Homo sapiens: one gene and its partners. The protein of the gene in region 1 purifies or fractionates together with the protein of each later gene. This does not show direct contact. Each region holds a gene or a part of one and is shown on either strand. Other genes may lie near its edges.

Evidence for each region.
Region 2: the proteins of NEIL3 (region 1) and SLC2A1 purify together in Homo sapiens (affinity purification with mass spectrometry; one large-scale study listed by BioGRID and IntAct). This does not show direct contact.
Region 3: the proteins of NEIL3 (region 1) and SLC25A13 purify together in Homo sapiens (affinity purification with mass spectrometry; one large-scale study listed by BioGRID and IntAct). This does not show direct contact.
Region 4: the proteins of NEIL3 (region 1) and ROCK1 purify together in Homo sapiens (affinity purification with mass spectrometry; one large-scale study listed by BioGRID and IntAct). This does not show direct contact.

The regions. Positions count from the first base shown.
Region 1 is NC_000004.12:177,350,097-177,355,960, forward strand, and holds part of NEIL3 (endonuclease 8-like 3), read left to right. Parts: intron 1-1,283; coding exon 1,284-1,453; intron 1,454-3,211; coding exon 3,212-3,632; intron 3,633-5,864. UniProt on the Homo sapiens protein: DNA glycosylase which prefers single-stranded DNA (ssDNA), or partially ssDNA structures such as bubble and fork structures, to double-stranded DNA (dsDNA).
Region 2 is NC_000001.11:42,948,561-42,954,424, reverse strand, and holds part of SLC2A1 (solute carrier family 2, facilitated glucose transporter member 1), read left to right. Parts: intron 1-5,864. UniProt on the Homo sapiens protein: Facilitative glucose transporter, which is responsible for constitutive or basal glucose uptake. Has a very broad substrate specificity; can transport a wide range of aldoses including both pentoses and hexoses.
Region 3 is NC_000007.14:96,184,895-96,189,598, reverse strand, and holds part of SLC25A13 (electrogenic aspartate/glutamate antiporter SLC25A13, mitochondrial), read left to right. Parts: coding exon 1-18; intron 19-220; coding exon 221-305; intron 306-4,584; coding exon of another isoform or gene 4,585-4,587; coding exon 4,588-4,672; intron 4,673-4,704. UniProt on the Homo sapiens protein: Mitochondrial electrogenic aspartate/glutamate antiporter that favors efflux of aspartate and entry of glutamate and proton within the mitochondria as part of the malate-aspartate shuttle.
Region 4 is NC_000018.10:21,104,345-21,110,208, reverse strand, and holds part of ROCK1 (rho-associated protein kinase 1), read left to right. Parts: intron 1-5,864. UniProt on the Homo sapiens protein: Protein kinase which is a key regulator of the actin cytoskeleton and cell polarity.

The DNA of each region.
Region 1 (5,864 bases):
TATTCTATTTATTATTTTACCAGACACTCCTGAATTTTAAAACTAGTGTAATTATATGTAAGGAACAAAATGTCACAGGAGACAAGGTTACCTTTGAAAGTCAAAGAACTCATGTTCTGAAATGTAAGATACATAGCCTTTACCTGCAAGAGCTTTGTTCAGTATTAATGTTTGGGATCATGAAGGGAATCCGTGATACTGCCATGGTTGCTTAACTGTGTGACATGCTCTATATCCAGACCTATAGCTAGCTGTGCATTAGAGAGTAGGACTATGTCACAGCCGTATAAAGGCATTTTGTGTAAAAATACATGGTCAATGAAGGACTTCAGATGGAGAATCATGATTTATATTTGTGGCCAAAAATCAGGGTTTTATTGTTTGCTTGCTAATCTATTAATTGGCTATCCACCATGAAACAGTCTTACATGAAGGGAAACAACACAAAGAGATATCTTTTTTCATCATTATGAATTAATGAATTTACATAGTGCTCAGCAGATACTGTAGAGAAATTCTAGAGTTTCCTGAGTTTTCTGTGCACATGAAGTAAATATAAAACTTTCACATCTTTCAATCCTCTAATTTCTGCATAGGTGTATTTTCCCATAATTTAATTGAATAAAGGTATTTTCATTTTGTTTGGGAAAAAAGTACCAATTACTTAAAACATTATTTGAGAAATACTTCCTAATGTGATATCAAATATTTTTAGTTGGTTTAAAAAAAAGCTACTCGATTATTTGACTCTAAATAACTTTTATTTGATGTTTCTCACTTTAACAACAATTAGTTGTTAAAGGGGGGTCCAGGTGAAAACATTTTACTCTGGCCAGGTGCAGTGGCTCATGCCTTAATCCCAGCGCTTTGGGAGGCTGAGGCAGGAAGATTACTTGAGGCCAGGAGTTCAAGACAGCCTAGGCAACACAGCATTCCATCTCTACTAAAAATTTAAAAATTAGCCAAGCAGACCAATGTGCACCTGTAGTCCTAGCTACTCAGGAGATTCAGGTGGGAGGATTGTTTGAGTCCAGGAGTTCGAGGCTGCAGTGAACTATAATGGTGCCACTACGCTGCAACCTGGATGACAGAGCAAGACCCCATCTCTACAAAAAAAAAAAAAAAAAAAAAAAAAAAAAAAAGACTCTAAGATACAGTACTAACTTCCAAGCAATAATAAAGAGATAGCATTGGGGTATTAATGGTTCTATAATCATTTCTAAAATATCCAGACAAGAACAAGGCAATAATAACAATGATTAATTTTAAAAATTATCTTATAGCAAGCTACCGACTAGAAATACTATAATCAGTTGGACATCTAGCAGGGTGGATCATGTTATGGACTCCGTGGCTCGGAAGTCGGAAGAGCACTGGACCTGTGTGGTGTGTACTTTAATCAATAAGCCCTCTTCTAAGGCATGTGATGCTTGCTTGACCTCAAGGCCTATTGGTAAGACTGAATTTTGATTTTGAGTTTGTTACATTTCTAAGAGGGTTAATTATACAAAGTCAGGAATATATCTTGCTCCATCTTGATATTCCATAACTAAATAAAATTTCTTTCTCAAAGGTTTAAAGGAATTGCCAGTTTTCACATGTAAACCATGCTAATATTCTGTTGAGTATTTTTTTTGAACAGGGAGGGAAAGCATGTTTGTGCTATAACAGTATGTGCCTTTGTATCTCAAAAAAATGGAGATGATCACATCTGTTCTCTACTGTTTCTAATGAATTATTCAATAAAGCTTTGTTTTATGCAGATTTCAGCAACTTTCGAGTTTGTTATTCAGTCCAAGTGTTGCATAAATTGAAAGGGAGGATTTCTGTAAGAATCTCTTTGCAGGTGGAATAGAAAAATGCTGAATTTTTTCTCTTCTTTATCCCTTCTACCCCGTGCTATTAAAATCTGTATCCAGACAATTGTACTGATTTCATTGAAACCCTTCAAAATAACTCTTTATAGCTCACGATTTCATGCATTTAGGGCATGTAAAACCTCAGAGGAAACCTGTGATTAAGAGCCATCTCATTGCAGCGGCTTCTATTGTGTTCTCAAAGTGTTATTTCTTTCTTCAATTAGAGATGAGAAAGTTCATTCCTGACTTACGCACCCCTGCATTGTGTCAACTGTCATATTGTGTTTTGTTTCCTGGGCCAGAAAGGCAGACATCACCCCTTGCACAGCTTTGCTGTGCTGCATCTCCTGTTTCCATCCCTCCCTCTTCAGTGTCCTTCAGCAGAGGCGGAGCCCATGGAAAAACACAATCTTAGGTTGCCACATTGATTTCAACATTCTGAAATGCATTTATATGTCTCATTAACTATTTTCTTGTTAATGTTTCTGAGTCAGAAAGACATCTTAATGATAATATAGAATGTATTATAGTACAGATTCCAAAATCCTAGGATACTCTGTTGTGAAACATTGTATTTAATAGATGTTAAGTCTGGCCAGTCGCGGTGGCTCACACTTGTAATCCCAGCACTGTGGGAGGCTGAGGCAGGTGGATCATGAGGTCAGGAGATCGAGACCATCCTGGCTAACATGGTGAAACCCCATCTCTACTAAAAATACAAAAAATTAGCCAGGCGTGCTGGCGGGTGCCCGTAATCCCAGCTACTCGGGAGTTTGAGGCAGGAGAATGGCGTGAACCCGGGAGGCGGAGGTTGCAGTGAGCCGAGATCGCGCCACTGCACTCCAGCCTGGGCAACAGAACAAGACTCCGTTTCAAAAAAAAAAAAAGAAGATGTTAAGTCTTTGTAATTCATCTTTACTTATTTTAAATAAGCCTTTCACTTTGTCTTGTCATTCCTAGTAGTCTAGAAACAGGTCTCTAACTGCTGACCTAAAGCTTTATGGGATATCATCTCTCAACTACCACTTTTTAATGCTTTGCCTAATATTAGCAAAACTGATAACTGAGTGACCTTTAAATGCTTAAACATCATAAAAAGCAAATATAAATCTTTGTTAAACCCATGTCTGGGTTTCTGTAAGTCGAAATTTTGCATTTTACATAATATTTCATTTCCTAGCCAGAAGATGATTAATTCTGACTTGTCTGAGCTAACTTTGTGTTATTAGTTCTATATATTAGTTCACTGTAATAAAGTGAAGTAAATTTTTTAATCAAATAAAAAGATGTTTCACATAATCAGTATGTTATATTTATGGGACTATTGCAGAATTACTTCTCTCTCCTTCCAGATTCAGTGCTCAAGAGTGAAGAAAATTCTACTGTCTTTAGCCACTTAATGAAGTACCCGTGTAATACTTTTGGAAAACCTCATACAGAAGTCAAGATCAACAGAAAAACTGCATTTGGAACTACAACTCTTGTCTTGACTGATTTTAGCAATAAATCCAGTACTTTGGAAAGAAAAACAAAGCAAAACCAGATACTAGATGAGGAGTTTCAAAACTCTCCTCCTGCTAGTGTTTGTTTGAATGATATACAGCACCCCTCCAAGAAGACAACAAACGATATAACTCAACCATCCAGCAAAGTAAACATATCACCTACAATCAGTTCAGAATCTAAATTATTTAGTCCAGCACATAAAAAACCGAAAACAGCCCAATACTCATCACCAGAGCTTAAAAGCTGCAACCCTGGATATTCTAACAGGTATGATGCTTTTAACCTTGGTCTTTAAGATAATTGCTTTTTTTTTTTTTTTTTTAAGACGAGGTCTCACTCTGTCACCTAGGCTACAGTGCAGTGGTGTGATCTCAGCTCACTGCAACCTCTGCCTCCCGCGTTCAAGCGATTCTCCTGCCTCAGCCTCCCAAGTAGCTGAGATTACAGGCACATGCCATCAGGCCCGACTAATTTTTGTATTTTCAGTAGAGACGGGGTTTCACCATGTTGGCCAGGCTGGTCTCAATCTCCTGATCTCAAGTTATCTGCCCACCTCCGCCTCTCAAGGTGCTGGGATTTACAGGCTTGAGCCACCATGCCCGGCTGGTTGCATTAAGTTTTAAGAAGACAGAAATTGTCCCTTGGTAAGGAAGTTGAATTACTTTTGGTAACATGAATCAAACCCTAAAAGACTATTATAGTAGTCTGTCTCCCTTCCCTTCTCTAGATTATAATGTTAGAGAAGGGAAGGAAATGAAAAACGTAATTTCCTACATGTATGAAAAGTTGGGTTTTTTTTTTTTCTGACAATAACCATACACATGATCAATACAGAATATTTGGAAAATATTGTAAAGTATAAAGAAAAATATTTGTCACCCATAATCATACTGCTTATCAATAACCAGTTAGCATTTTTTAATATTTCCTTCCAATGAAAGATAGTCTTCCAAAAGGGGAACTATTTTTTATAAAAGTTTAGTAAGTATACTGTGTTCTAAAAGGAGGGGTCTGAGGTGCCTGTAGTGACCTTTCTGTTAAAGAACGTGGATGGATCTCAAACAGTCATGCGAGATGGTGTTTATTTTTATTTTTATTTTTTTCTTTGAGGTGGCGTTTTGCTCTTGTCGCCCAGCTGGAGTGCAATGGCACAATCTTGCCTCACTGCAACAACATTCGGCTAATTTTTTTTGTATTTTTAGTAGAGATGGGGTTTCGCCATGTTGGCCAGGCTGGTCTCGAACTCCTGACCTCAGGTGATCTGCCCACCTCAGCCTTCCAAAGTGCTGGGATTACAGGCGTGAGCCACTACGCCTGGCGTTGTTCTTTAACTAAAAGTCCTAAAAAGCATACTTGCTACTTTGTATCTGAAATTCAAAAGTTGTAATTCTAACTAAGAAATACTACCAGAGCAGATATATTTTATAGGACTTCCAGCTACATGTCCAGGAGAACACCCTCATTTTTGTCACCTGTGATACAGAAATTTTAATACATAACGTCATCCTCTCTTTTCCTTAATGATTATCGGCAGCTCCTGAAACAATTTTCTGTTGACCCTCCTTCCCCCTTTATCTGGCCCTCCCAGTCCCTTTATCTGGAATTCCTAACTATGGCAACCCGATGTTATATCTCCAACACAGGACACATTTCTCCACCATTTTCTTTTCTCAGCTGCTTTCTTTTTTCCTTCAGAAAGCAGCTGACTTACATCCAGCATTTTTAAATAAGTGGAGAATTTATAACATATAAATGGAGGGTCGTCCTCCCATGTATGTCTTTTCTTGCCAATGGGAGACAGGCAGAGAAGGAGTTACAGTCATCCCTCGGTATCCTCAAGGGATTTGTTCCAGGACCCCCAGGATACCAAAATCTGCAGATGCTCAAGTCCCTGATATGAAATGGCATAGTCCTTGCATATAACCTATGCACACCTTTTCATATATTTAACTCATCTCTGCATTACTTCTTATAATACTGAATTCAATATAAAGGCTGTGTAAATAATTGTTATACTGTATATTTTGTGTAATTTTTTTATTGTTTCATTATTTTTTGTTTCCAAATATTTTCGATCCAAGGTTGGTTGAATTCATGGATTGGGAACCTACGGCTATGGAGGGATGTACTTTGGTTGGGACCTAGAGTAATCTCAGGTGGAATTCTGAGATTCACTGGCTTTTCCTCTTATTAGCTGTGCCTTTACTGATGGGTAGATGCCTTCTCTCAGCGGTGGGGTGAGGGACCATTTGGTGTAAACTCCTAGAGCAACCTGTAGGAATCCTTAAGCTTATTTCATAACAAATTCTGAGACAGTCTCTGCTCAATAGATGTGTTTACTCCAAGTTTCCTATTCCAGCTCTAAATTTACCATCAGTTAATCCTGATGATTTATCCTTGACTGGTTTTTTTAATGTCTTGTTCATAATCATTTATGATAACTGGTTTAACTTTTGTTCATATACTCACATTTGAAGTAAGCTAAGGGGGCTAAACTTT
Region 2 (5,864 bases), on another chromosome or scaffold:
GCCTCCCGAGTAGCTGGGATTACAGGCATGTGCCACCATGCCCGGCTAATTTTTTTGTATTTTTTTTTAGTAGAGATGGGGTTTCTTCATGTTGGTCAAGCTGGTCTCGAACTCCAGACCTCAGGTGATCCGCCCACCTCGGCCTCCCAAAGTGCTGGGATTACAGGTGTGAGCCACCGCGCCTGGCCTAGCTGTGTTTTTTTTTTAAAGATGCTTTCTTCTCCACATGCCTGTCTGTGCCATCCTCCACCCACCCCAAATGAGCAGGAATCCCCAGACACAGGACTTGCCATGCCATAGGAGCCTGAAAGTTGGATTAGACGTAACTTGACAACTGAAACTCTACTGTGAATGGAAACAAAACACTAGATGTTCCCACTAAACTCTGACCTTGAAGAAGTGGCTTTCCTTGGAGCCTTGGTTTCCTTCTCAGTAAATAGAGACTTGGCTACCCCCAGTGGATGTGGTGAGACTGGCCCCGTGCCCTAAATTAGAGAAGTGGCTATTTTAAGTGGAAAGACCCTTTGTAAGGCCAGTCTGGGTGTACAAATGATGTAAACAGCCCCAAGATGATCCTTGTCTAGTACCGAGCCATCCAGGGATTCGACCCTATTTGCCCCGGAGCTGGGCCAGCCTCAAATCCCCCGTAATCAGCTTGTGACTTCAAGGAGCTCAGCTTTGCCCAGTGCCTCCTGGTCACGGGGTGTCGGCCCAGAGCTCTGCTCAAGTACCAAGGGTACAGCCATCCAGCTCCCTGCTTCCCCAAGACTGGCAAAGCTGGGGAGGCCTGGAACAAAGAGGAAAGTGTGCAGTGTTGGCTTGGGGCCTGCAACCTCACCCCTTCCCCCACCTCACTCCTGGGCATAAAGGTGATAAAGCCGCTCACTCAGTCTGCAGTCTGGTAACCGACGTCCCCATGATGGCGGAGGCTGGGAGGCCTCCTGACCAGATTCATGGGCTCAGAGAGGCTGTGTCCAGGCCTGCAGGCCCAGCCCTGGCTACCCTAACAAGCCTCCAATTGTTACCTCTCTCCACGGGAGGGGTGGACTGGAGCCTGAGGCTCTGTCTTCCAGCCACCAGGCCTGGCAGTAGCTGATGCATAAACATTAGGGTTTTGCAGTAACTGAGCAGGGCTCCCAGGCCTTGAACCTGGGCAGAAAGAAGACAGCATCTCCTCTCTTTGTGACCACACTGACTTGCCTCCCTGAGGCTTCTGCACCCTGGAATGGGAGAGAGCTCTTGCCAGGCCTCAGCTGATGGAGCCTTTGGCTACTGAGGCCTCTGCTGGACAGGAAGTCTGCCTATGTCTCCTAGCCCAGTTTATCTCCCCCTGCCCTGGCATTTGGGAGTGGGGAGGAAACGGCTCCATCAGAAACAGCTCTACCATTGGACCTTAGGCCAGCCACACTTCTTGTTGGAGCTTGTGTCCTCAGCTGTACTGGGGATGAGAGCTAGCTGTCTGGGTCAGCGGCACTGAGGCTCCAGGGGAGCATGTGGTCTGTGCAGCAGGCTTGGGGAGTGCTGAGCAGCACAGATTGGGTTTCATAGCACAGTGGGAGCCCAGACAGGCCAGCTAGCCATAAGCACCTCTGCTGGAGGAAGAGGTGGACTCTCTTGGGCTGGAGGGCCCAGTTCAAGGAAAGAAACAAACAGCTACACTGGGCTCCTTGATCACCCAGCTGTGGCAGTTCTTCTTGAGGACTTCCTGCCCCTAGGTGGGGGCTGCCTTCAGCTCCCTGCTGCGTGTGATAACTTGGGTGTGGCCCTCACAGCTGTGCAGAAGCTATTCCCAGAGGGTTCTGGCCCCAGGTAAACAGATTCTGCTCTGGGCTCGCCTTGCCTCCATCCCACAGCCCTGTGTGCTGTCTGTGGCACAGCCTAGAGCAGCACTGCCTCGTGGCCCTGGCCCTTATGCGGCTGGAGCTGATCCTGAAGTCCAGTGTCCCAGCGGTCATGGCTGGCATCATCACCATCTACAACCTGGTGATGGAAGTCCTTATCCCCAACTCGCTGATCGACTGCATCAGCCTCTACGGGAATCTCCTCCAGCCAAGCGCTAGGCTGAGTGTGGGCCTGAGTGGCCCGGCAGCCAGCTATGTCATCAGCACTGTGGGGGACACAGTGCTGCCTAGAAGCCCGGGCTATTTGTGGGCTTGATCCTGATCCTCATTTTCACTGCATGGTCTCATTCTCTCCACAAAGTAGCCTTTGAGCCCACCAGCCACAGAATGTGATATAAAGATCACCCCTGCTTATTCCAGAATGAACAGCCTGAGACACATATCCCTTCAGTAGTTGGTCTTGTGAATGCAGTGTCCTAGTGCAAATGCCCATCATCTGTTGACCCCATCCTTGCCCCTGCCTGCCCCATGCTGTGGATATCTGGGCCCCCTCATCACCCATCCTGGCCCCCTGACCAGTGAGGATGCCCCCTCCCATCTAGGGTACTCTGCGTCTAAGGATGAATTCCAGTGTAATTTTCTCTCTTCTGTAGGTTTATTTATGGAAGATTGGACCTGTTCATACATCTGTGGGGCAGCCCTCCATCTCCCAGCTATATAAAGTCTCTAACCACAGTGTTGCATTGTGGGGTTACCATGTGGTCTGACACTTCCTTGCATGAACTACCCTCACTCCAGCCCTGGACAGTCCAGGGCCTAGCAGGCAGTGTGTGGGGCCTACCAGGTCCTGGCATCCAAGCTGTGTCCAATAAAGTTCTTAGATGTGACTGGAAAAAAAATTGGATTAAAAAAAAGCTTCAGAAGTTACAGAGCCAACTACAGAGAAGCATAATAAATGAAAGAGTGTCTTCTAGTTTTGACAGTTTGGTGTTTACCCTAAAGACTTCTCTTTGTGCATGTGTAGATACATGCCTATAAATAGAATATTTGTGTAGTTGGATCCCACTTTCTGCATAGTTCTTTGCAACCCATTCTGTTCACCAAACCAACCCTTAGAGGTAAATACTGGCAGTGTTTCTCTCTGCACATACAACCAAGTGCCACTATACAAGTTCACTAACTCCCTGTTCCTTACACAATATGTACATCCTATTGCTTTTTTTCCCCCCTGAACAATCTACCCTGGTACTCTTCATAACACATACATGTTATGTGAAACACAGATGTGTTTCATTCTTTCCAATAGCTGCATAATACTTCATTACAGGCATGTCCCACCATGATTAAGAAATAGCAGCCCCATCACCTTCTTCATACCACTCACCACCTGATGTATTACATGTATTTATTTTCTGCCCCAGCCTTCAACTAACCTATCAAGTTCCATAGGCAGGGATTTGGTATAGTTTTATCGCTGAATTTCCATTGACTAGAAGAGTGTTGGGAGCATGCATTCAGGCATAATCTTTCCTTAGCAATATCATTTATTCATAGAAGATCCTCTCTTATGGAGAATTAACTGAAGCTTAGAGGAAGAGACTTTTTTTTGAGACGGAGTTTCACTCTTGTTGCCCAAGCTGGAGTGCAATGGCGCGATCTCGGCTCACTGCAACCTCTGCCTCCCGGGTTCAAGTGATTCTCCTGCCTCAGCCTCCCGAGTAGTTGGGATTACAGGCGCGCGCCCCCCACGCCCAGCTAATTTTTCGTATTTTTAGTAGAGACGGGGTTTCACCATGTTGGTCAGGCTGGTCTTGAACTCCTGACCTCAGGTGATCCGCCCACCTCAGCCTCCCAAAGTGCTGGAATTACAGGCGTGAGCCACCATGCCCAGCCAGGAAAGGACTTTTTTAAGGTCACACAAGTGGAGGAGCTGGGACTTAAATGTGTCTGCTGAGAGTGACAGTGAACTTTGCATGTGCCCAATCTTACCAAATTAATGTTCTCTTAGTTGAATTATTGCCCATCTCACCACCAAATGTGTATCTTCTCAGGGGTGTCAGTTTCCCCAGGGTCCAGATCCTGGCCCCACACCCACACATGGCCAAGGAGCCATTTACATTTAACATTCCATAATAGGATGCATACCTTTTCGGTTATTTAGGGAGGATGTGGTTTTGCCTGGAAGGCTTTGAGAATGCTGGGCAGCTAGCTCAGGGGACGTGGGGCTTAAAGCAGAGGCCGATCAACTTTTTTCTAAAGGGCCAGATAGAGCGTAAATATTGTCAGCTTTGTTGGACATGTAGTTCTCGGCCTGCCACTCAGCTTTGCTGTTGCAGTACAAAAGCAGCTGTAGACAAATGAGTGTGGCTGTGTTCCAATAAAACTTTATTCATGGTCACTGAAATGTGAATTTAATATAATTCTTACATATCACAAAATATTAGTCATTGTCTTTTTTTTCTCCCCAGCTACTTAAAAATGTAAAACTCATTCTTAGCTGCCATAGTTTGCCAACTTTGGCTTATAGCAAATGCAGCAAAGTGGCCCAAAGGTTTCTGAGCCTGTGCCCGGGCTGTCTCAGCTCAGAGTGGGCAAGGCTCAGAGAGTTGCTTTTATGGAATTTGACCTACATAGAAAGCACCAGGTAGAAACCTTGTTTCCTTCAGGGACCAGTACCCGGAAACAAGGGGGAGGACCTAAGCAGGAAAGCCATAGAATTTGGCATCAGAGACCCCCAATTGGAAACTTCCCTGAAGCCTAGAGTCCCCTGGTTCTGCGCTTTTCCCTCTCTCTCATTTCTCATCTGTGAAAAGGGAGTAATCGCTCCCCAAAAGCTTGTTCATGGTGGTTAATCAGAATGTGTGAGCAGCCTCTGGCAGGGTGCCTCAGCTCGCTGCTGCTGCTGCTGCTAAATGCACCAGCCCCCTCCTCTCAGTTCTACTTTGAAGACTGGCGAGTGCCTTCTGCCTCGAGGGCAACCAGGGGTGTCTGGAGGTTCAGTCATGCAAGGGTCTTGATATCATTGGAAGGCTTAAAGGAAGTGGCTTCAGGAGCACTTAATGCTTGAGGTCACCCTAAGGTCAGGTTTTGGACTGTTAGTCCATCACTCTTCTTTTTTAAAAGGCTTGGCAGGATGGAACCGGTCAGAGGGTAGAATGCCAGGCTAGGAAACCAAACAACTCTAGTCCCAACCCTGGCTTTTGTTTGTATGCTAGGCTGGGCACCTGCCCTCTGACCTCAGGTGCCTCCTGTCAAGTGCCGATGTTACAGCAGTCTGCAATTTCTTGAGCTTCTTTCTTTCTTATTGCAGCCAAAGCTGTCTTATTTTTTTTTCTTTTGAGAGTGTCTCACTCTGTCGCCCAGACTGGAATGCAGTCGTGCAATATCTGCTCACTACAACCTCCGCCTCCCAGGTTAAAGTGATTCTATTCTCCTGCCTCAGCCTCCCAAGTAGCTGGGATTATAGGCATGTGCCACCACACCCCACTAATTTTTGTACTTTTTTTTTTTTTTTTTGAGACAGAGTCTTGCTCTGTCGCCCAGGCTGGAGTGCAGTGGCGCGATCTCAGCTCACTGCAAGCTCTGCCTCCTGGGTTCAAGCCATTCTCCTGCCTCAGCCTCCCGAGTAGCTGGGACTACAGGCATGCGCCACCATGCCGGGCTAATTTTTTTTTTGTATTTTTAGTAGAAACGGGGTTTCACCGTGTTAGCCAGGATGGTCTCGATCTCCTGACCTCGTGATCTGCCCGCCTTGCCTCCCAAAGTGCTGGGATTACAGGGGTGAGCCACCGTGCCCGGCTCCAACTTTTCTATTTTTAGTAGAGACAGGGTTTTGCTGTGTTGGCCAAGCTGGTCTGGAACTCCTGGCCTTAACCAATCCGCCCGCCTCGGCCTACCAGAGTGCTGGGATTATAGGTGTAAGCCACCGCGCCCAGCCTTGAGGTTCTTTCTTTTAATGCCCAGAAGTTCATTTAAATGAGTAAGAAACACAACAAAACAAATTAAAAGGGAGCTGTCATGGAT
Region 3 (4,704 bases), on another chromosome or scaffold:
TTTATATGAGCCAAGGGGGTAAGTTGGCTTTTTTTTTTTTTTTTTTGGAATTAGCTTAATAAAAGGAGGTTAGGAGGAGGGCAGCAATCAGGAGAAAAAGAAGCCAAACTGAAGGCTATACTGAAATATGAGAAATGAAAAAAGGGATGTTTTTAAATTTTATAATGTAAATTGTAATAAATTGGTATATTTGTTGCTTGTGTTTGTTTTTCCCCTACAGACGTATGACCTTAGCAGACATTGAACGGATTGCTCCTCTGGAAGAGGGAACTCTGCCCTTTAACTTGGCTGAGGCCCAGAGGCAGGTGAGCAAAGAGGAGCAAACTTGCATTCTGGGGTTTCCTTAGCAGGATACCCCAACCCTGTTCCACTTGCAGTTGCCTTTGCGGCATTGGTATCTGACTTAACCATTTTTCTGTTTTGCACCAAAACTCTCGATAAATTTTAAAGGCTGTAAAGAGAAATTGCTTAGAAATGGTGTGATAAACAGGTATTTGGCATTTGCTCATTTCTTGCTAAGGTGGAGTGATTTCCTAACTGCACCAGAAGCCTAATGCTCCGAAAACATGAAGGAGGTCTTTTCTCCTTTCTTGAAGTCTCATGTTGAGAGATGTAGCGAAAGAATCCCGTGTTGGTGTCACTGTGCCTGTCGGCAGCTGCACGTTGCTAAATGAAAGCCGTCTTTGCTCTGTGGAGCAGCCCTTCATCAGCGCATCGTCTAACTGCCATGCCTTCCGTTTTTCTGAATATCAAAATGAGATAATTTTGTTTAGTCTGGAGTTACAGTTTAAAGGCTTTCAGACCTATTTTCTCTGTGAAAGGATTCATAAGTTATATGGAAACAATTTTAGGAATGCTAAATTTTATTTTATGGTTAACAGAAACCAATCTCTTGAAGTTGTGGGAGTCAGAAACTTAAGACATGGAACTTTCTCCTTTAACTCTTACCCAGCTTTCTGTAGATCAGGATTAGAGAAGAAAAGCCTTCATAGCATGTGTTAGTAAAATAAATGGTGTTTGTAAAATAAATCCACTCACAGGCGAGTGTCGTTTTTAGAAAAATTTCTCCTTTTAGGCAGAGCCATCTCTGAATCCTGTGAGACTTCGCAGTTTCTGGCATGGAGCTCTGGGTTTGTACAGAGACGCCAGTGTGACCACAATGGGTTGCTGCAGGCTACACTTTTAGGACTGTCAGACCTTGAGCCAGGGCCCCCTTCTTTTAGCTCTTTCCCACCCAAATGCAGCGGTGAGTTTTGTGTGCAGCATGCAAGTCAAAGTAGTGGGTGTGTGCTCAGTAAATTCTAACGAGCACCTCTGGAAAACCAGCTGGCCTTGCTTAAAAGAGGAAGCCGATTTCTCTGAGTGCAGGAGAAATAACTATAATCACGTGTAGAGGTGGAAGCAACACTGCTCTCCCTTCCCTTTGATTTTTAACACTGCTTAGGAGATGATTATCTCTTCGTCTGTATGCCACCAGCTATTGTAGAAATTTGGGGATTAAGAGAAGCAGAGAAGTTTTTTTTAGATCCCTCCTACTCTTCAGCTGGCAGCGGCTTCCCACAATTTTTCCTTTAAGCTCTTTGCAGCTTTTGAGAGTTTATGATGGGTGCTTGTTGATACTGGCCATGAAAGGGTTAGACCAGATTGATGAGATTTATAGCAGGAAATGATTCGCTGCCGCTTAGAGGTTTAGAGCAATTCACAATGGCCTTACCTGGAATAGGCTTTTTACTGCATGAACCCTAGTGGGCCCGACAAATTCAAGCAAGGGAGGTCGTCCACCTGTGGGCACAGCGCTGCCTGTCCAGCACTGTGCAGCACTTGTAGCATTTATCCTGGACAGAGGAGTGAAGGAGCAGAGTTTTGTCTCATTTCAAGAACATGCTACAGTTCTGGCTTTGGAAAAGTTAAATAAAAGTCTAGGATTTCATTTGTCTTTTAGGAGAGGAATTAATGGTGGTGGTAGGTCCCTCCTCCCCCCACCCTCTATAATTTTCAGAGTATTTTCACTCATTATTTTGATGCCAGAACATTTCTAAGTATTGCATATTTATATCCCTGTAAATAAAATATTGCTTCTCTTTTGGATGCATCTGTCAAAATGAAGGTACTATTGATTTCCATCTATATAGGGCTACAGTTGGAAACAACTCATAGAATTTGCAAAAGAAATGTTTTGTATCTTAAAGAGGCATATTTCTATGTAAAGCTATTTTCAGTTAAGTGACTTTGAAGGAGATTCCAAATGATCTCATTGTATTAGAATTGTGTTACATTGACAGCAACTAAAATTCAGTGGGTTGATAGCTGGGGTTGCTGATTATTTTCATTGTTCACTGATTTTAATTATCATGGATTCTGAAAAACAAATTTTATTGAATGTATGTATTCATTCAACAGGTATTTATTAAGCACTGACTATATGTCACCCTCATTTGACAACTCTCTGTGACATAAAATTACTGTTTTATTTATGCAGACAGAGAAGTGCAGCACTCTGAAATGTTCTGGCATCAAAAACACTGTGAGGATAATAGGTCAAAAGAACCAGAAAACAATGACTGACTGACCTGAAGTATGAATTTAGAAAAGATGGACAAAAAAAGAGAAAAAGTAACGATCAACTGTAATACAGCCACCTAGTTTTAGCTACTGTAAATGTTTTGAGTATCTCTGGGTGGTAGGGAGGCAAAATATTAGTATTAATTTTATATGCATATATATGTAAACCTCTTACAAGCATTTTTAATAAAAAGTGACATCATTTTGTATATAGTCTTAAAAATTGTTTTTAAAAAAATTACCAGGAAATAGGTCAAACATTTAAATAGGTACAAAGAATCATATGACAAATACCTATCTACTTACCATGCTCTTTTTAGCCTATGTTTTCTTTTATAATTCCTTGTGAACATTTAATATCAAATATTCTTTTACAGTATCATTTTGAATGATAGGGTTTTGTTTTAAAGTTATTATTTTTAAAGGCTATAGTCCTCCGTTATTGGACATTTAGAATATTTCCCAAATTTTTGTTCTTTTTGTTTAAAGAGCAAAAATTTGGGAAATAATCGAAATTTCCAATAAGTACTACAAATGTTTTTTAAGTGCTACATTCTTGTAGCTTGTTACATGCATGATTATCTTCTATCCTAACTTTTTTCTTTTTGAGACGGAGTTTCACTCTTCTTGCCCAGGCTGGAGTGCAGTGGCGCGATCTTGGCTCACTGCAGCCTCCGCCTCCCAGGTTCAAGTGATTCTCCTGCCTCAGCCTCCCAAGTAGCTGAGATTACAGGCATGCGCCACCACGTCCGGCTAATTTTTTATTTTTAGAAGAGACGGGGTTTCTCCATGGTGGTCAGGCTGGTCTCGAACTCCTGACCTCAAGTGATCCACCCACCTCGGCCTCCCAAAGTGCTGGGATTACAGGTGTGAGCCACTGCACCCAGCCTATTCTAACTTCAGAGGTTATGTACATTTTAAGGGTTTGGGTGTATATTACTAAACATCTCTCTATTTATGCTTGCTTTAATGGCAAATTTCAGAAGGCTTGTTATCAACTTTTGCCAGGCTGGGTATTGCCACTTAAAACAAAAACAAAAATACATACAAACCAAAAACCTGCCAATTTGATTGATGAAAAATGATGTCTCATTGATGTTTTTATTTGCTTTATTTACTTTATTTTATTTTATTTTTTTGATACAGTCTCACTCTGTTGCCCAGGCTGGAGTGCAGTGGCGCGATCTCGGCTCACTGCAAGCTTCACCTCACGGGTTCACGCCATTCTCCTGCCTCAGCTTCCCAAGTAGCTGGGACTACAGGCGCCTGCCACCACACCCAGCTAATTTTTTTCTTTTTTTTGTATTTTTAGTAGAGACGGGGTTTCACCATGTTAGCCAGGATGGTCTCAATCTCCTGACCTCATGATCCACCCACCTCGGCCTCCTGAAGTGCTGGGATTACAGGCATGAGCCACCGTACCCGACCTATTTTTATTTTTGAGATAGAGTCTTGCTCTGTTGCCGAGGCTGAAGTGCAGTGGCGTGATCTCAGCTCACTGCAACCTCTGCCCCCTGGGCTCAAGTGATTCTCCCTCCTCAGCCTGAGTAGCTGAGACTACAGGCACATGCCACCATGCTGGTCTAATTTTTGTGTTATATTATAGAGATGGGCTTTCACCATGTTATCCAGGCTGGTCTTGAACTCCTGTGCTCAGGTAATCCGCCCGCCTCAGCCTCCCAAAGTGCTGGGATTACAGGCGTGAGCCACCGTGCCTGGCCTCAGTGATGTTTTTAACTGTGCATTTTTTTTAATGAGAATTTGAAAATAGGCTTATAACATCATTTTTGTCAAAGGATGGTTTTGATTATATTGAAATTTGGTTTTAAACATTAATAGCACTAAAATCTTTTTATTAATAAGAACTTATGAAATCCATTCCTACTTTTTTCCTTGACATTTTAGTTGTATCATGGATTTAGAACCCAATGAGTAATGTTTAAAGTTAATGTATGGTCATTTTTGTTTTATCTTCTTTTCTGTCACCTGTTTTCCTGCTCTCTGATTCCTGTGCATGCAAAGCAGAAGGCCTCAGGTGATTCAGCTCGACCAGTTCTTCTACAAGTTGCAGAGTCGGCCTACAGGTTTGGTCTGGGTTCTGTTGCTGGAGGTTAGTCATGGATGAGAGAAAAATTTTCACTT
Region 4 (5,864 bases), on another chromosome or scaffold:
AAAAGTACGTACCATACAGTTATTGTAACTGTCTTTTTGGTGGTGTGGCACTTAACATTGTCACTTGTAAAACATTCTAAAGAGGGTTTTATGACATGAAAAACCACAATCCCATTTTAAAAATAGTTAAGTGGTTGATAATACAGTTATCTGTAAATAATTGGAATTCTTAGGTTTGATACATTTCCTCTGTAAATGTATCAAAGTTGTTCAGAGTTTCTGAACAACTAAGGGTTATATAATATTTCTTGGTCCAAACAAAACCACATAATCTCTAAAATAAGGTTTCAGGGAGCATGTATATGGACAGGATTTCACAATGTCTTCGGTGAAATAATGTTAGATATGCTCAATTTTGGGGATTAAGATTAAGGAAACAAAATAATACCATTCAAAGAAATAATACAATTCAAAAATCGCATCTTGAATCAAAGGAAAATTAATGTAGATTGTTTAAAATTAACGTGCATTTCAGTTACTCTAAATTTCTGTTTATTTGTATTTTTCCACGTGTATGGGTTTTACAACAAGCTTCCCAAAGCTTTCAGAATTGTTGTAAGCATCCCTGACCAGGAAATAAGACTATTGTGGGTTGTTTGAAATGTCTCACCACATTATGGATGCTCTTTATATTGAGAGATAGTAAAGAAGGTTGATGCGTAATAGATTTTAAAACATTTTATTAAACGAGATAAGTGGAAGGAATTAGAATATATCTTGTAGTAAGGATTTCTATAACTTCTAAGAAGTCTGATTTATCTTTTAATATTTATCCAGTTTTCATATATTTTTGATTTTATTTTGCTTTTCGATCTCCTTATTACATGAGTGGTGTTATAGGGAGGGTTTAGTAGCTTTCTTTTTCTTTAAATCATCTTCTGGCCTCTTGCTATAGCTTCATTTGGTGGGGACCTTTATTTACATGTGGAGGATACAAGGAAATATAAGTCATGACTCTTTCCCTGAGAGTCCAATCTATTTAATGGAAGACAAAACCTTGTCTCACATATATACACAGAAACAAAGCTAAACACTTCACAGATTGAGAAAATGTGATAAATTCCAGATGATTGTTTAGATAATGTATGTTCTTGGAAATTGAGAGAAAGAAGTCACTGTGAGTTGAGAGAGCCAAAGTATGTTTTATAATGGATGGATAGGATTTAGGTAGAGGGTACTCAAGAGGAGTGGAGGATAACGTGAATAGAGGGTGGAGACATGACTGGCTATGACATGTTTGGGGAAACAAGGAAGATAAGGTTGGAAGGAAATATTAGCGTTAGATTGTGGAGGATTTGATTGGTAGGCTAAGGATTTTGGATTGCCTTTACACTGTTGTGGCTATTAAATATTTATAAATAAGACCGTGCTAGGATGAATGAAGAAGATGAATCTGGTGTGTGGAAGATGGGTTAGCATGGGAAAAGATTGGAGAGACAGTGAGATTGGACAGTTTTTTAAAATTGTTATTATTGTAATAGTCCAGAAATGATTGAAGCCCAAAATTGGGGCATGAGAATGAGAAAAGAAGAATTAATGGAACTTTATTGGCAGGGAAAAGATGGGGAACCAAAGAGAGAGGCAATAGTCAGATGACTCTAAAGAGGTTGAGCCTGGATTATAGGGAGAATGGTAAAAATAGCAAAGTCAGGTTTGGAAATTGCTTGTGAAGAATAGGCCTACAGATAAATTCAATTTTAGATTCGTTGTGTTTGAGGGGATAGTGGAGCAATCATGAGAAAATGACCTGTAGACTGTTGGAGATACAGAACTGAGCTCATAATTACAGATAATGATTTAGAAGTCATTTGCACAAAGGTGCAAGTTGATATAATGGTAAAGGGAGAAACAATGGAGGGAAAAATGAGGGTGAAAGATGAAGGTTGAACAAAGAGGAAGAGTGGAGGAGGTAAGCCATCAAGGCCTCCAGAGTTAGGACAGCCAGGTATCATGGAGCCCAACACTTCTAAAACAACATTTTGTTAAAGAGAATAGTCAACAGACAGATTTGGTTGTTTTTTCCCCTTCAAATCTTATAATCTTGTCCTCTTTTTCTGTTTAGTTCCACAGCTGTTTATTGATAGCTGTTACTGAAATTTTATTACCCCGTCAATCTGAACTTGGTAAAGACTGAATTTTCCTTTTTTTTTTTCTGAGATGGAATCTCACTCTGTTGCCCAGGCTGGAGTGCAGTGGCGCGATCTTGGCTCACTGCAACCTCCGACTCCTGGGTTCGAGTGATTCTCCTGCCTCAGCCCCCACGAGTAGTTGGGATTACACGCGTGCACTACCACGCCTGGCTAATTTTTGTAGTTTTAGTAGAGATGGGGTTTCACCATGTTGGCCAGGCTGGTCTTGTACTCCTTACCCCAAGGAATCCGCCTGCCTTGGCCTCCCGAAGTACTGGGATTACAGGCGTGAGCCACCGTGCCTGGCCCAAGACTGAATTTCCTTTAGAGACAAAAAATCCTTTTTCTGGGTTTGTAGTATCTAGCATGAATTTTCTTCGCATGATGTTTTATGTTTAACATTGAGCATTCGTTCGTTCATTCATTCATTGTGTCATTCAGGGTGACCTATCAGGTGACTTCAGCTTTTTCAGTGAGTCTGTTCTTGTTCTTCCCTATCTGGACTTTGGACCTCTCATGTATTATAGGAACAAAACTCCTTTTACATTGGTTGCCTTTTTCTGTTATTTTGACTTTTGTTGATTTGTGTAACTGATACTTACTTATTAGTGTGTATTATGTGCCACGTGCAGTCCTTTAGTTCTAGAGTTGTTTTTGTAATCCCAAAAATAAGGTTTTCAAATTGTTTCTTCTCTACCTCCTTTACTAGATTCATGCTTAGAAATGGAAACTTCCAAATCTTTTGGTTTCAGAAATTTGCTGGTGTATGTCCTTTTAAACTACCTTACCTACTAAACAGCTTTTTTGTTGAGACACTAATGATGAATAGCATCCGTAATCTGAAATTTGAAGTGCTCAAAATCTGAAACTTTTTGAGTGCTGACATGACGCCATAAGTGGAAAATCCACCTGACCTTGTGAGATGGGTTGCAGTCAAAATGCAGTCAGAACTTTGTTTCATGCACAAAATTATTAAAATATTGCAAAAAATAACCTTCAGGTTGTTGTGTATAAGGTATGTATGAGACGTAAATGAATTTCTTATTTAGACTTGGTCCCCATCCCCAGGGTATCTTATGTATATGCAAATATTTTAAAATCTGAAAAAGTCTGCAGTCTGAAACACTTCTAGTTCCAAGCATTTTAAACAAGGGATACTCAACCTGCAGTAGTTTAGAATAATGTAGCTGGAAGAACTCTGATAAGTGGCTATCCAATCTTTTCTCGAACACCTGTAATTTTTTTCAAGAACTAAGTAAGTTCAATCTTCATATCATGTATAAATGCTAAAATAGTCTGCAAATACTAAGATACATTATGATAACCATTCACTTGTTTCCTAGAGCATTCAAATTAGTCAACTTTGGTTTTCTGTAGGTCAGATTCTTTCCAGTGTCCTAATGGTTGTCTTTCTTACTGTCCATGTTACAGTTTATAAGGATTATCGGGAGCTATTTCTCTTTTCCGGACTTCCTTATCTTCTAATTATTTTGTCTAGGGCCTGTAATAATTTCTCAGTGATTTTGAGTACCTTTGAAAACAGAATAAGGGATGGAGTTTAGTTAAGTCTATTTAATCTTTGCAGAGGAAAAAATGCTTATGATTTGTAAATTAAATAGGAAAAACAAGGCCGGGTGCAGTGGCTCGCTCCTGGAGGGCTGAGGCCAGAGAATTGCTTGAGCCTAGGACGGGGAGGTTGCAGTGAGCCGAGATTGTGCCACTGCACTCCAGCCTGGACGACACAGTGAGAACTTGTCTCAAAAAAAAGGAAAAACAAAAATGGTTGGGAGGGTTATAGATACATTTGTTTTGAAGTTTGACATACTTTTCATGAAAATATCTTGCTTGTAGCATATTTATTGGCACATCGCTTCATGATGCCTGTTAAGAACATGACCTTTCCACTTCTCTTCTGGCTGGTGGAGGTGTAGCAACGGGTGAGCGGAGGAGACAGAAGGGAACCAGTATTAGTCAAATAGTGCCTGTTGAGTTCTAACACTGTGCTGTTTGTCACTACTATTTCTTATTAGGGAGTTTTTCAGAATGTGGAAGATAAATGTAAATGAAATTTCTGGTGTTAGTCTTTGAGTTTTTCTTCCTTTAAATTATCTTCCTGGGCTCTCTTGACCTAGTGCTTTCCCATCTTTTCATTCTTCTTTTTTTCTTTTCCTCAATCTTTGGCCTATCATACTTATCTTTGTCTTCACTCTCTTGAAGAATTCATCCATTCTTACAGCTTCAATTATTATTATCTCTATGTACATGATACCCAAATCTTTATTTTTAGTCTTTTGTTTCAAACCTTAAATATCTGACTGCCTTGTAAGCATTTCTACTTGGATGTCATGTTAGTCTCAAATCCCTCATATTCCAAAACAAGCTTCCTCCCATAAACTTATCTGTTTTGTCATTAATTCCACTATTGTCCCTGTCGCTAAACTGAAATTTTTGTTGTGAACTTTTTTGACAGTGTTAGTCCACACATTGGGTTATTACAGCAGATTTTGGGTAGCATTTTCGAATCTGGATTATTGCTGTCTAATCCCCTGTATGCCTTGCCAGTTGAATTGATCTGTTTTGGGGGTATATTACTCTTGGAATGAAAAGACCTGAGGTCATTAAATCTTTGAGCCTTAAAGTTGTATCTCTGCCAGTGTTCCTAGTTTGTGAGTTAATAGGTGTTATTAGTATCAATTGCATATCTGGTTAGTTTGGACCAGACTTTTTTGGATGTTAGTATGTTGCAGGAACTTCTTTTAAAAAAACAAGTTACTCTCCTAATTCATTTTTATTCATTCAGCAAATCTTTGTATAGGGCCTAAACTTGGATTGAAATCTAGGCTCTGACATGTATTTGCTGAAATATTTTAGGGAGTTATTTTAACCTCTCAATGCTGTTTCATCTTCAGAAAAATAAGAGGGGATAAAAGTACTAGATTGTTGTAAGAATTGAATAATATAGTCAAAGCAACTATCATAGCATTTGGTATTTAGTAAGCATTTGTAATATTGTCATATTTATAATATTTCTGTTATATACTAGTCAGTGTGCTTAGTCTAGAAGTTGATATTTATTGTCGTCTCTAAGTACAGAGTAATTTATCTGGCACCTCAAGCCGCTCATAAATTCATAATCTAGCTGTGCGTTATTGACGTCTAAGCCAATTGTAACTGAAAATTGAGACATTTATTAATAGATTCAATAAATGGGGAAGATCTTTTAGAGACTGTTTATTTGTTTAGTTGTGATTTATAATATGGTATATACTTTGTGCCAAGGGTTTAGTTGGATATAAAAGGCAATTGGGAACTAATTTATGGAGATTGAGTTGTTATCTTGTTCTCTTTCTGTGTGTATCTTTTATACTTTCAGTGTGTGTTCTGTAAATAGGCCCTCTTGCACTACAGGCACCCTGTGGGTGTGTAGAGACGTGGCTCAGAGTAACGGCTGAGATATGAATTGGTTAATTCATTAATCTTTTGAGTCAGAAATGTTTTTTTTCCGCCCAGTCCGAAGTGCCGTGGCGCTATCTTGGCTTACTGCAAGCTCCACCTCCTGGGTTCACGCCATTCTCCTGCCTCAGCCTCCTGAGTAGCTGGGACTACAGGCGCCCGCCACCGCACCCGGCTAATTTTTTGTATTTTTAGTAGAGACAGGGTTTCACCGTGTTAGCCAGGATGGTCTCGATCTCCTGGCCTCGTGATCCGCCCGCCTCAGCCTCCCACAGTGCTGGG